Linked DNA regions of Homo sapiens. The protein of the gene in region 1 purifies or fractionates together with the protein of each later gene. This does not show direct contact. Each region holds a gene or a part of one and is shown on either strand. Other genes may lie near its edges.

Region 1 (7,026 bases):
ATAATCGCCACTATGAAGTATTTTTTTTAAATGGTAAAAGCTATTTAGCTTTAATTTAGAATAATGTCTGTATTTATGTAATATTTGAAACTGCCATTTCTAGGAAACTATTAAATTTAGTCTAATATAAAATAGAGCTAGTTTATATATAGCTTTGATAATTGTTCCATTTTATATCATATACTTACATGATTCATCCTATAAGGAAATTCCTTTGGAAAGGCATATGAAAATCTAGTTTTTACTGCAGAAAATAAAAAAAAAATTTAAACTGAGAAAATGGGAAATAAATTAACTCAAAATTCCTTTAACAGAGCAGAATATTAGAGGGTAGAGCAAAATTATTTTCAGTAGGAATTCTTGGCAACACTTACGGACGCAGATTTTTATTTACTTTCAGGGAAGGGGAAAGACTGGGGGGCAGGACACTCTACACAGCTTCAATTTTATATTTACTACCTTAAGAAAGGATTCTGATGTTTAAAAAAGAAAAAGATCAGGAAAAAAAAATCACTGGCTTTTATCATTTCTAAAATCTTTTCAGCTACAGAATGGTATTCTTCTGTTTTCCAGTGACTGAGCTTAGAAGGAACACAGGGGTTACATATGTGTTTACAATATATACAATTGGTAAAAAATATACATATAAAATATTGGGAGGATAGTACACCAAAAAAATGTTAACAGTGGTTATTTGTGAGATTTAAGAACTTTTTACTAATCTGCACTTTCTAAACTTTTTACAATGACCAGGTATTTATCAAAATATATATTTTAATAAAAGCATTAATATATATGCAAAGGTCTCGAGTTACTCATAAAGTAGTAGTAGTAACACATAAAGTTAGTACTCTATTATCTATTACTTTATTGGTTAGTCACTAAATAAAGTACAAATGAAAAAAAAATGTTAACCATCAATCCCCCATCTCCTTAAAATGGTGTGAGCATATACACATAAGTACTATTTGAGAAACTGTATTCAAGCCATTATGACACATTTAATTCAACCAAGTAACTACTGACAGGTCCTAAAAAATGTTTAGTGTCAGCTTCCATTTGTACAAAGCCCAAGTGATTTCACTGAAATTAAAAGAAATTCCATTTCTGGCCAGGCACAGTGGCTCATGCCTGTAATCCCAGCACTTTGGGAGGCCAAGGTGGGTGGATCACCTGAGGTCAGGAGTTCGAGACCTCCTGGACAACATGGTGAAACCCCATCTCTACTAAAAATACAAAAATTAGGCGAGTGTAGTGGCATGCACCTGTAGTCCCGGCTACTCGGGAGGCCGAGGCAGGAGAATCCCTTGAACCCGGGAGGCAGAGGGTGCAGTGAGCTGAGAACACACCACTGCACTCCAGTCTGGGTGACAGTGAGACTCCATCTCAAAAAAAAAAAAAGAAAGAAATTCCATTTCTTCTATGCACTATGTTTTCAAAAAGATTTGTTTTGCAAATTCAGTGCCCTACAGCTAATTTAGATGTGTAATATCTGCCAGGATTTGAAACCTAGAATAATTTAAACTTGACATTAGTAAATTTATAATCTTTCCTTTCTTCTCTCCTTTATTTAAATTTAAGACGTACCTATTAAGGTTTCTGAGTTTTACAAATCCTTGTGATGTAAAGTATACCAGCACAACAGGTTCTTATATAATGGTAGACAATCAACAAAGTAAAATTATCTCTGTATATAAAACAAATCTACATCCCCATCCCCTGGACCTTGACACCTAACACCTCTATTGAGAATATATTTACCTGATACTGTCACATGTCTGTTACTCCATGCTAAAACTGCTCTGCATTTTTTTCTGTCTTTTAATCCTTTTCCTCCAACTTGGAGAAAAATACATCCCTCCTCTCTATTGTTTGTCTTACCACTTATACACTTATTATCATCTATTCAATTGATAACTCCTGCTATTTTTTTCATCTTTAACCTTCCTCCTTCAGTAAATCTTCCATCACATACTAATATGCTCAAATTTCCCTTGAAAAAAGCAAAACAAACTCTACCTAATTATATTCCTCTGCCTTTTATTTTTGTAGACTCAAACACTGAGATCATGCACAGTTCTCTTATACCCACCGTTATTGACTTCCCAGCCTCCAGAACTGTGAGAAATAAATGTCTGTTGTGAAAGCCACCCAGTCTATGGTACTTTCTTATATTAGCCCAAGTGGACTAAGACATGCCTTCACCCAGCTTCCCCTACTATTAACATCTTACATTAGTATGGCGCATTTGTTACAATTACTGACCCAATATTGAAATGTTATTATTAACTAAACTGTACTTTTTTCAGATCTCCTTAGTTTGTACCAATGTCCTTTTTCTATCCTAGGGTCTTATCTAGGATACCACATTATATTTATTTGTCATGTTTCCTTAGACTGTTTGGCTGTGACAGTTTTCTAGCCTTTCCTTGTTTTTGATGACTTTGACAGTTTTTAGGAGTACCAGTCAAGTATTTTGTCAAATGCCCCTCTACTGGAATTTGTCTGATGTTTTTCTCATTAGACTAGAGAAAATGGGTTTTTGACAGGAAGACCACCGAGATAAAGTACCATCTTCATCATATCACATCAATGATACATGATATTAATGTGATTTATCACTGTTGCTACTGACCTTGATCGCCTGGCTAAGGCAGTATTTCTCAGGTTTCCCCACTGTAAAGTTACCTTTTTCCTCCCTTTCCATATGTACACACTAGCAGGAAGTTAACATGTATAGCCAGCACCTTAGGAGTGGGGAGTTATGCTCCCTCTACTTGAGGGCAGAATAGTTACATATATTATTTGGAATTCTTCAGCATGGAAGACATGTCTCTTCTCCCTCATTTATTTATATCAGTATGGACTCATGGATATTTAGTTTATACTTTGAGTTATTATCCAATGCTATTTTTAAAATTTTGATGCTCAAATTCTTTCAGCTTTGGTCAGTGGGAGCTCTCTTAGTTAGCTCCTATATCCTTTTGACATATCCTCATCAATAGACGTTTTTGTTTTTCTTGTTTGTTTTGAATACTTCTTTATTACTGGCATTAAGAGATGGTCCAGGTCCATCTTGTGTATTTCTTGCCCCAGTCCTAGAATCAACCATTTCTCCAAGGAGCCCTGGTACCTTTTATTGGAGAATGATATTAGAAACCAAGATATGGGTACTAGGTGAGCTCATTGCTACTGGGATGTCATTGCTTATAGACCCTTTCAGCTGAGAAAGCCAAGAAATACACACACTAACCCATGTATATACACTTATCTATAAATATTTCTATATGTAACTAACCATCTATATTGTATTAAGGTACACGAGTTCATGCTGTTTCCAGCCCTTTGCTTATCTGTAAATTCCCGCTCCAACAATGAGAAACCCGGCTCTCAAACATTTGCTATTGATTTACGTAATTGTTTAATTCCCATATACATGTATAGCATTATCAGAATTGTTAACTTGTACACCCATGGGTAATAACTTTATCAACTAGAGTACAGTGCTTATGTGTAGTTCCTTTTGCCTTTACTCTTACACTCTTAATCATTTCCAAAGCTACTTATGTCAACACCTTTCCCCCAATTCCCTTCACTGAAGTTGTTTCATATATTTTTAATATAGTTAGACTATTCCTTTCTCAGCACCTACTTGCTTCTTAATTCCTTGCAATCTGGCTTCTACCTCCACCCCCACATTGTTAATGACACTATGTTCTCTCTCAAAGATGTTTTTTTCTTTGGTTCACATCTTTTTCTATGCAGCATAAGACATTGTGGAACTCTTTTTTTTTTTAATTTTTAGGGACAGAGTCTTACTCCATTGCCCAGGCTGGAGTGCAGTGGCATAATCACAGTTTACTGCAGCCTTGAACTCCTGGGCTTAGGCAACCCTCCCACTTCAGCCTAGTTGAGTAGCTAGGACTACAGGTGTGTGCCACCATGCCCAGTTAGTTTTTCTTTAATTTTTTGCAGAGCTGGAATCTTGCTATGTTGTCCAGGCTGGTCTTGAACTCCTGTTCTAAAGCAATCCTCCTGCTCCAGCCTCCCAAAGTGTTCGGATTATAAGCAGGAACCACCATACCTGGCCTGTGCAACTCTTAAATGTTATCAAATTCCAAATTTCTACTGCTGGCCTCACATTTTTAAGAGGATGTTCTACTAACATATTTATACTTAGAATGTCAAAGATTAAATTTAATTCTTTTCAGAACTCACTTATTCTCTTTTTCAGTACCAGCTTCAGCTCCCCAACCCCCAGGCAAAAAAACCTCAAAACACATTTCTGACTCTTCTTAAATCCCTTCTTTTTATAAGAACTGCTGACTCTATCGCTCAAATCTGGCTTGTTTGTTCTTCTTGCTGGCTGCCAATATTCGTTTAAGCCTTCATTAGTGTTCACTGGGATGACTTCAGCAACTTAAAAATTATTTTTTCCACTTTAAACTTGTTAGGTTTTATTTCTCATAGCACCCTGTGGTAAGTGACAGCACTCAATACAGTTTGCAGTTTTACTGTATTTCAGAAGGTTTTTGTTTTTAAATTGTGTTAAGATATACAAAATTTTTGCAAAACTGAAACTCTGTATCCATTAATCACTCCCTATACCACCCTTCCTCCAGCCCTACCATTCTACTTTCTATCTTTATTAATTTGACTAAGTATTCCATGTAAGTGTAATCACACAATATTTGTCTTTGTTACTGGCTTATTTCACTTACCATAATGTCCTCAAGGTTCATCCATGTTGTGGGATGTAAATAACTTCAAAATTTGTCTAATTCTACCTGCCCTCTCCTCCAATTCATCTTACATAATTCTGTCAGATTTACCTTCCTAATGCACAATGCTAGCATTACCCTCATGTGTGAAAATAAATAAAACTGGCCAGGCACAGTGGCTCACGCCTGTAATCTCAGCACTTTGGGAGGCTGAGGTGGGTCAGATTTACCTTCCTAATGCACAATGCTGGCATTACCCTCATGTGTAAAAATAAATAAAACTGGCCAGGTGCAGTGGCTCACGCCTGTAATCTCAGCACTTTGGGAGGCCTGAGGTGAGGAGTTTAAAACCAGCCTGGCCAAAATGTTGAAACCCCATCTCTACTAAAAATACAAAAATTAGCCCGGCGTGGTGGCACACACCTGTAATCCCAGCTACCAGGGAGGATGAGGCAGGAGAATCGCTTGAACCTGGGAGGCAGAGGTTGCAGTGAGCCAAGATCGTGCCACTGCACTCCAGCCTGGGCGGCTGAGCGAGACTCCATCTCAAATAACTAACTTTCATTACTGTCAATAGAACAAAGTGCAGATTCCTTCATTTAGCATCGAAGGCCCTCTATTAGCTGAAATTAGGTAAGGAGTTTTCCCCACTATTTCCTTACTCACCATTCAGTTAATCTAACTCATGAGCTTTCCCTATTTGACTAAACTATTCAGTGTTCTTAGACTGTCTATCTCTTGCATTTCCCCAGTTCAACTTCCTTCACCAAGTTCTACTTAATCCTTTCTGGATTCATGAAACAATCTTTTCCCACCCAAAACATTCACAGCATTCTCTGTAACTCTCTTATACTATTTATTTCCTTCTGTATTAATATTTTTATGTTTCTGTCTTCTTTTTTTGTCCTTAAATTCCTTGTATTTTACCTTGGTACCAATGCCACTGCATTGGCACAGTGTTTTCCAGTGATAATGATGTTGTTGTCATTGAAGATGATGATGATGATGATAGCCCCTAAAGTTTACCAAGTATTGTGGACCAATATATGTCCCCCTCCAAAATTCGTATGTTGAAGCCCTAACTCCTAGTACCTCAGAATGTGACTGTATTTGGAGAGAGGGTCTTTAAAGGGATAAGATTAAATGAGGACAGGCCAGACATGGTGGCTCACACCTATAATCCCAGCACGTTGGGAGGCCGAGGCTAGCGGATCACGAGATCAGGAGTTTGAGACTAGTCTGGCCAACATGGTGAAACCCCGTCTCTACTAAAAAATACAAAAATGAGCTGGGCATGGTGGCACATGCCTGTAGTCCCAGGTACTCAGGAGGCTGAGGCAGGAGAATCACTTGAACCCAGGAGGCGGAAGTTGAAGTGAGCACTCCAGCCTGGGCGACAGAGCGAGACTCTGTCTCAAAAAAAAAAAAAAAAAAAAGAAAGAAAAAAAAAAGATTAAATGAGGACATAAGAGTGGGGCCTAATTCTGTAAGACTATTGTCCTCACATGAAGAAGACAGCAAACCAGGAGTGTGTGTGCTCACAGAAAGGTCCATGTAAGAATAGCCAGACACCTTGATCTTGGATTTCCATGCTCTAAAACTGTGAGAAAATACGCTTCTGTTGTTTAAGCCACCTGTTCTGTGGCATTTTGTTATGGCAGCCTCAGCAAAGTAACATACTAAGCAAGGCACTGTTCTAAAAGCTTATATTAACTCATTTGGTCCTCATAACAACCCAACAACACAGGAACGGGTTTGCACATAGATATTAATATCTACCCATAAGAATGACATAATAGTCATTAGAAAACAATAAAATACAATAAAATTCGGAAACAGAATTTTTTCTTTACTCTTACAAGATTAAAAGCCACTGAGTTGATGTTTTTGGATTGATAATTACTATCCATTTTAACATTAAAAGTAATATCTTTATATCTTTTTAAAAAAAAACCTTTTAGCTTGATTTTTTTGCCAGATACACTAGATATAAAGTTATCCTCAGGAAATTTAATAAAGCCAACCAATCTCATATGTCTCATAAACTAAAAAAAAAAAAATCTATGTACTCTGGAGCTTTCTTTAGAATTACATCCTTAAAGCAGATATACTTTTTGCACTTACATACAGAAGTAGCAGCAGCAATCAATCTTGTATTTGAAACTACTCCAAATTCCTAAAGAAAGAAAAGCAGGTACATGTTAACCCAATGAATCTAAGGGTATCTGAACTCTATTCAAAACAGGATTTCCTTGCTCCTGTTTACAATCTGTTCACCTTCTAACTACTTGAGGTGTGAAGTACT
Region 2 (7,026 bases), on another chromosome or scaffold:
TCTGCCCTGAGTAACTCAGGAGCACAACCCCTTCAGAAGTGTTCACACGCAGCCCCGCCCCTGAGCCCGCGTCTGCCGGACGATCGTCGATCACAGGCATGGACCCTGGGTGGAACCGACTGTTTTCATTAGCACTCGCTCTCTGTTTGCACTTTGTTGACGGCGCAATCACTGCCCCTGCCATTGTCACCGTGCCTGTTGTGGCCGTTACACCACCAGATGCAGCAGTAACCGCACCCGCTGTGACGGTCACTGCACTTGCTGTGGCATTCACTGCACTCGCAGCGGCATTGACTGTGCCTGGGGCGGCATTCACTGTGCCCACCGTGGCGTTCACTGGAGTGGTGAGAACATTCACTGGCCCCGTAAGAACATTCACAGGCCCTTTCAGGACGTTCACGGGCCCAGCAGGGGTGCTCACCAAACTTTTCAGTGTGGTCACTGAGCCCTTCACGGGGCCTTTCAGGGCATTCACCGGGACCAGGGAGACGTTCACCAGGCCAGTGAGTGCGCTCACCAGACCAGTGAGGGTTTGAGGAGCTGGTTTTGCCAAGGTTATCTTCTGTGAATTTTCCAGGTCAATGCTGACAGGCATCCGGCTAATAACAGAGGTAATTTTGGGAGCAATGACTGGAGCCACCTTTTCCTTGTCAGCAGCTACCAGCACCTCCGAGGCTTGTATCTCAGAGTTGTTTGTCACTGGAGGTGCTGTTTTTTCTTCTAAAGGCTTTTTAGAGTCAACTGGCGGGGGCGGGGCCTCATGTAGGCAAGGGGCAGCACTGACAGGCTCTGCAATGGCTGTGGTGACACTTGTGGAAGTGACACTTGTGGCAGACACATACTTGGGGTCCATGAGAATCTTCCTCAGGGTGCTGGAGCTGGTGTCAACATCAGAGGCCTTTGTGTCTGGGGGAAGAGCTGGAGATGGAGTAGACTGAGCCCGTGGCTCCTCCTGCCTTGTGATCCACTCTGTCACCTTAGTAGGGGGGCTCTGGTGTGGGATCCCCCCAGAGGCGACAGGAGGTGAGAGCTTTGCTGCAGTTACAGAAGGCAGTGTGGGTATGGGGATGCTTGGATCGCTGGGTGGGGTCACCGGGTCACTTTCAATGATGGAATGCACCCTGAACCTGGCTTGAGGCTCCTCATCCACCGGTGCTGGCTGGGGAGGTGGGGGAAGGTCTGGGGGCACAGATGCTTTGGTTGGAGTCCTTTCCTCAACACTGATTTCTTGGGACGAATTCTCTGTGGAGGGAATCTTGCTTAGGTCAGAAGTACATGACTGAGGAGGAGTGGAATGGGGTTTCTCACTCTGCTTTTCTTCCTGTGGGGCTTCGGGGTGCTGTACTGTTGTCCCCTCATTTGCAGCAGGACTCTCACCTTGAGCTTGGTTGGATTCAGGGACATGGCTCTCTACAGGAGCCACCACTTTCTTGTTTGTGTTTCGCTTGCGGCGTGATCGGGTTGTTTTCTGGCGCCCTTTGTCTTTCCGAACAAGAGTGACTTCCACTTCTTTAGACCCTTTGGCTTCTGGCACTGAGTGTGAGGTTTCACTGCTATTTCCTCTGGCTTCCTTGGTATCTGTTGGGCCGGCTGAGGGGTCAGGAGCATTGACTGGAGGCCTAGAAGATTCTGTAGCAGCCTCAGTTTCCAGGATGCCAGATACAGCCTCATCTGTCTCCATTCCTTCCTCAGAAGGCTGCAGCGCCTGTGCACCTGCGGGGGGTTGCAGATCTGTCTGGGATTCTCCAGGATAAGGTGGAGGTGCTGGGAAGTTTTCTGGCTCCCCAGAAATGTCATTGATGATGGAGCCGATGGCCGCAGCCAGCTCTGTTTCACTTGCTTGGTGTGCAGGCTTGTCCCTGTCCTCTGGGGCAAGGCCCTCTGGTGCATCTGCCTTATAGGCAGCAGAGGCAGAGGCCTCAGCGAGCTTTGCGATGTGTTCCACGGCCTGCTCCAGCTCCATCTGCTTGGCTAACTGGGTGGCTTCTGGGGACGGCCCAGAGGCAGACACGTCTTCTTTCTCTGGTTCCTTGTCTGGATCAACTGGATCACTTTTCAACTGGGATGATAAACCATCCTCCTTTTGGGGACTCTCACTTTTCTCAGGGGAGACTGCCACCACCCCAGATTCCCTCTCCCCTGCCTGTGCTGCAGCCCCCCTGGGACTGACAGCAGCATCCACATTTTTCAGACTTGCAGATTTGTCCACTGCTAACCTGGAGTTTCGAGATCTTCCTCTCTTTGATTTGGAGTTTTTTTCAGGGGCCGGTTTTTTCTCTACAACTTCAACAGGGGCGGTTTCAGGGGGGTTTTTGTCTGTGCCAGCATCTTTTCTGTCACGTTTCTGTTCACTCCCTGCCTCCTCCTCAGCAGCCTTGGGTTCCATGGAGCTCTCTTTCACGCCTATTTGGGGGCCCACCTCAGTGGTGGCCTCAGGACGTGTAGCATCCACCTTCGGTTCATTTTTTCCCTTTTTCCCTTGGGGTCCACCACCAGCTGCAGTTTTCTGGGACCTTGGCGACCGCCATCCCTCAGGTGGCTTGAGTGTTTCTGCAGGTTCCTTGGCCTCGTTCTCCTCCTCTTCATCGGCTCGCCGGCGTGTCTTTGGAGGCCTTCCCCTCCGAGGGGTGGTGGGAACCGCTGCAGCCTCCTGAAGCTCTCGCTCCAATCTCTTTCTGGTCACTCTTGGTTGCTCAACGGGCTCTTTGACAGGAGAGCGGTTTTCATGGTCACCCATGGTTGCATAGACGCTCCTTACATTCCGGCGCCTTGTTCGGCTGAGAGGCAAACTTGGTTCGGGATGTTCAAGGTCTGCAGCAGAGTTTTTAGAAGCAGTCCTTGTAATCTTCTCTGCCTCCATCTTCAATTCCAAAAGCTTCTGTGCTTCTCCCCGAGGAGAATTGGACCGCTTGAGTTTTTCCCGGTCTATCCTCTCACTCTTCCTTGTGACGGGCTTCTCCACGATACTCACTGCAGCTGCCTGAACAGGGGTCTTTGAACGCTTGCTTTTGTTTGGCTTTTTATCCTTTGCAGCAACTGGAGGATCAACCTCTAAATCTTCAGAAGCTGGGGGCTGAGACTCAGGAGCAGCTTCGGCTTTCTGGTTTGCATCAGGCTCAGCATCTGCAGTGGCGTCTGGCTTTTCGGCCTTTGGCTCATTGGCTTCCTCAGACTTCTGAGCTGGTTTTGAAAGTGGCTGGGTACTGTCAGGCTCTGGATCTACGTTGCTCTCTGCCTGGGAAAACGAGGCCCCGGGAGTTGGAGGCTTGGCATCCAGATAAGGCGGCTGGTCACCTGATGAACCTTCCTCAACACCCGCAGGCATCATGGCAGCTTCTTTATCGGGGTCTGCTCCTGGGGGCAGGTCTACTTGTTCCAGCTGTTCCACAGGGGCAGGAGCAGGTTCAGATGCAGGCTTTGCTTCTTCTGAGACGGTAGCTGGCTCCACAGTCTTCTCTTCTGTTACCAAAGGCGCCTCTACCGTTTTGTCACCAGTGGTCTTCTCTAGTGCTGATGGGGCTGATTCTAGAGTTACGACTGTGACACTTGGAGGCCCAACGGAAGGTGGAGTTTTCAGTTCTGAATCTTTATTCTCAGGAGCAGATTCTGGGGTCTTGGGATGATTCTCTGTATCTTCCTGTTTCTCAACCTCTTTGGGTTTCTGGTCTTTTTCTTTTTCTTTCTGTTGCATCCGTGTGAGCTCCATAAATCTGCTATGGAACAGAACTACTGGTTCTTGAATGGAATCAGTTGTGCTGTTTGCTCCCTCAGATGTCTGCTTCCCATAGATCCTACCAGAAATGAAGTCAGAATCTTCCTCTTTTCTCTCTAGATGCTGCAATCGCTTGGAATCTTGTTCAAAGATTGAGCTGTGTAAAAAACGAGAAGCAAACAATTCCTGCCTCTCTTGCTCTTCTTCTTTATGGTCCTCTTTCTTATCATCCATTTTCCCTTCTGAATCAGTCCTAATTTTCTTCTTTTTCATGTACCAGGATGGAATAGGTCTTGGAGCAGAGTCAACCTTTTCTTTATCTTTGTTGTTTCGAAAATTTGCAAATCGGGAGTCCCAATCAAGAAAAGACCAATTTTCTTCACGAGATGAAGAGAGGGATTTAGCTCTTTCAAGCAAAGCTTTAGTGTCTGGTGTGATTGTCTTATCCAATGCAAAAGAGTAAAATTTGTTCCTTTCTAAAGAACTAGAGAGTCTTTCATCTCGCTCACGTAGCTTGTCTTCTCTGTCCCTCAATAAAAAAGACAATCGAGAACTTTCATATAATGCAGAGGCTCTGGGTGAGTGGGATTTGTGTTCACCATCTTCGTCAGAATCAGAAGGCACCTCACCAGGTTCCAGATCTCGTACAGACCTTTTTCGAAGGCTATCTCTCTTAATTATGCTGTTTGGGAAACTCACATCAAATCTGCCAGCATCCTGTTTCATCTGAGAGTCCCAACGATTTAGTTCATCTTCAGAATTCAAGACAGATAGTTTTATTTTGGCCATATCTGCCATCTGTTCTCTCCTGCTAGAATCATAAGGATTAAATTTTAAAGACTCTTCCCTGACTGTTATGTTAGAATAGGGGAGGACTTTTTCATCTACTTTAGGAGACCCTTTTACTGACAGTAGCCTAGGGGAGCCTATGGGATCCTCATCTTCATGGAAGGAACCATGTCGGACACTGGGAGAACCACCAGTCCTTTCAGAATCTTCGCTGATTTGGCGTGAACTTCTGTAATTCCGTTCTCGCTTGGTGCAGATATCAAAATCGACATGATCCATCCTTTTCTTTTTGCTAGGAGGAGAGTCATCAGTGACATCTTGAGGGGGTTTGCCTACCTCGTGAACGAGGCTACGTCTTTCATATTCATCTACATCTTTTTTAGGACTGCCAAACTTCTCAGACTTGGCTATTTCCATTTCCATCTGCTGTTTCCTACGACTCTGTTCCATTTGTTTTCGGTAACTCTGCGTGTGATCGATGTCAATGCCAATTTTTTCTTCAGTATTTACTGAATGTGATTTCTCTTGGCCTGATTTACGTTCAGGTGTTTCATCACGAAGACTGCAATAGTTTTTCCTAACGTCTTCTCTCTCTGGTCCTTGATCATCTAATACCTGCAGCTGTTTGAGCTGTGGTTTTGAGGGAATGGGCTTTTTTGATTGGACTTCTTGATTTTCCACAGATTCACCTGCTAGTTCTCCCAGTCTTGCTTGTAGGTCTGAGCTGGGCCTTGAGCCAGACCCAACAGAAATACTGGCAAGCTCCTGACAGTCTTTGGGGCTGGCAACAGTATTAAGTCTGTCCAGTTTGATTTTTTTAGATTCTCTTTTAAGAATTTCTTTCCTCACAGGCTTTCTTTCAGCCTCTCCTTCCCTCAGCAGAATGACCTCTCTAGAGGACACGTCAGGCTGCTTTTTTGAAAGCACGCGAGCATCCTCCATCTCTGGACTGCTTTTCTTGACCTCTGGTTTTTGCTTTTCTGCTTTTAAATTGGAATCTGCAAAGCGCCTTTTCCTGGCTTCCAGCTTCTCCAGATCCACAGCACTTACCCCATCTGCAGGCTGCTCAGGCTTGAGGTGCTTCCTGGCTTTAAGCCTGCCTTCCTTCTCCACCACTTCAACATGGCTTGAAAGCCCCTTTTCCTTTGGTACTTTCATTCTAACTGATTCCAGTTTAGACAAGTCAGATTTTGCAGGCTCCGTCTGAGAGACCTGAAGTTTCTGGTCCAGGGCAGAAGATTTGACAGTGTCATTATCAAGCTTGGCTTTCAACTTTTCCACAGGAGTGTGGTCAATGACCTTTCCCTCTTTCTCTTTCACTCGAGTCAAAACCACGCAAGGCATGAGTTCCAGGCGGTTTTTCGCTATTCCCTCTTTGTCAGCTTTCTCTCTGCTCAGTTTATTACAACTCCTGGGCTTTTCAGGGCTTTGCTCTCGCTCATTTTCTTGGTCCGTTTCTGAAGACTGAGAACTAGGGGAGTGAACCTTTCCTTTGCGTTTCTGCTTGTCAGTTTTGTCCTTTTCCACTTTTTCCTTCCGTATTAAGCGTCTCTCTCTCTCCACTCTCTCCGGATCAAAAGTTCGTTCTTTATCTGTCTTTTCATTTTTTGTATAGCGCTCCAAACGAGACTTGTCCAGTTTCTCATATCTTGGAGGGGAGAGTGAGCTACAGCTTCCACTCCGGTCTGAGGATCGGCTGTAAAGCCTCCTCTCAGAATCACTCGGCAACCTCTCTGCCTGAGAGGGAGACGCTCCAGGACTCTGTGGACGTCGCAAGTGAACAGGACTTTGACTTCGTTCAATCGGCCTCCTCTCATGGTCTCTGTCCCGGTCAGACTCAAATCTTTCACGTTCTCTTTCTCGTTCCCTTTGCCTGTAACTATATTCCCTAATATCTTGTTCATAAGGATCATTCCTGTAATCCCTGTATTCCCGAGGATCATCGTAGTATCGTGATTCATAGTAGTCTCCTTGGTAAGTTTCCCATTCTGAATAAAACTCTCTCCCTCGAGCTGGATAGTCCCGCCTGGAATCCTCAGGATAAGTGCCTGGAGTTCGAACACTCTCATAATATGTACGATCTTGGTTATAGTCGTAGGATGCCCTTCGTTCCTCTCTGCCAAAAAATAACAAAGATATTAGTTCTTTTGTTTCCTCATCACTTATGCATAAAATCATACATATGAAATCAGAAATTCCTGCTTCTAAAAAATCTTTTGACATTATTTAATCATTTGTGAAATGATTAGTTTGTAGTAGCTATCCACTATAGCTTCAAGTAGCTACTAGGCACTTGAAATCTAGCTAAATTGAGATGTGTAAAATACACAGCCAATTTTGTAGACCTAGTTTATAGAAAAACAACAATTTAGACTGATTATATGTTGAAACAACGTTTTAGATATATTAAAGAAAATTTCACTTTGTCTTTTTAATGTGGCTACTAGAAAATTTAAAATTACATATACAGAATTTATATAACTTACATTATGCTTCTATTGGGCAGTGGTGATTCAACCCTTTTT

What was found. Proteins that work in one complex are often made in the same cells at the same time.
Region 2: the proteins of CCNC (region 1) and SPEN purify together in Homo sapiens (affinity purification with mass spectrometry; 4 studies listed by BioGRID and IntAct, with this or other methods). This does not show direct contact.

Annotation. Positions count from the first base shown.
Region 1 is NC_000006.12:99,551,652-99,558,677, forward strand, and holds part of CCNC (cyclin-C), read right to left. Parts: intron 6,898-7,026; coding exon 6,846-6,897; intron 2,151-6,845; exon of another isoform or gene 245-2,150; coding exon 189-244; exon of another isoform or gene 1-188. UniProt on the Homo sapiens protein: Component of the Mediator complex, a coactivator involved in regulated gene transcription of nearly all RNA polymerase II-dependent genes.
Region 2 is NC_000001.11:15,927,682-15,934,707, reverse strand, and holds part of SPEN (msx2-interacting protein), read right to left. Parts: intron 6,618-7,026; coding exon 1-6,617. UniProt on the Homo sapiens protein: May serve as a nuclear matrix platform that organizes and integrates transcriptional responses. In osteoblasts, supports transcription activation: synergizes with RUNX2 to enhance FGFR2-mediated activation of the osteocalcin FGF-responsive element (OCFRE).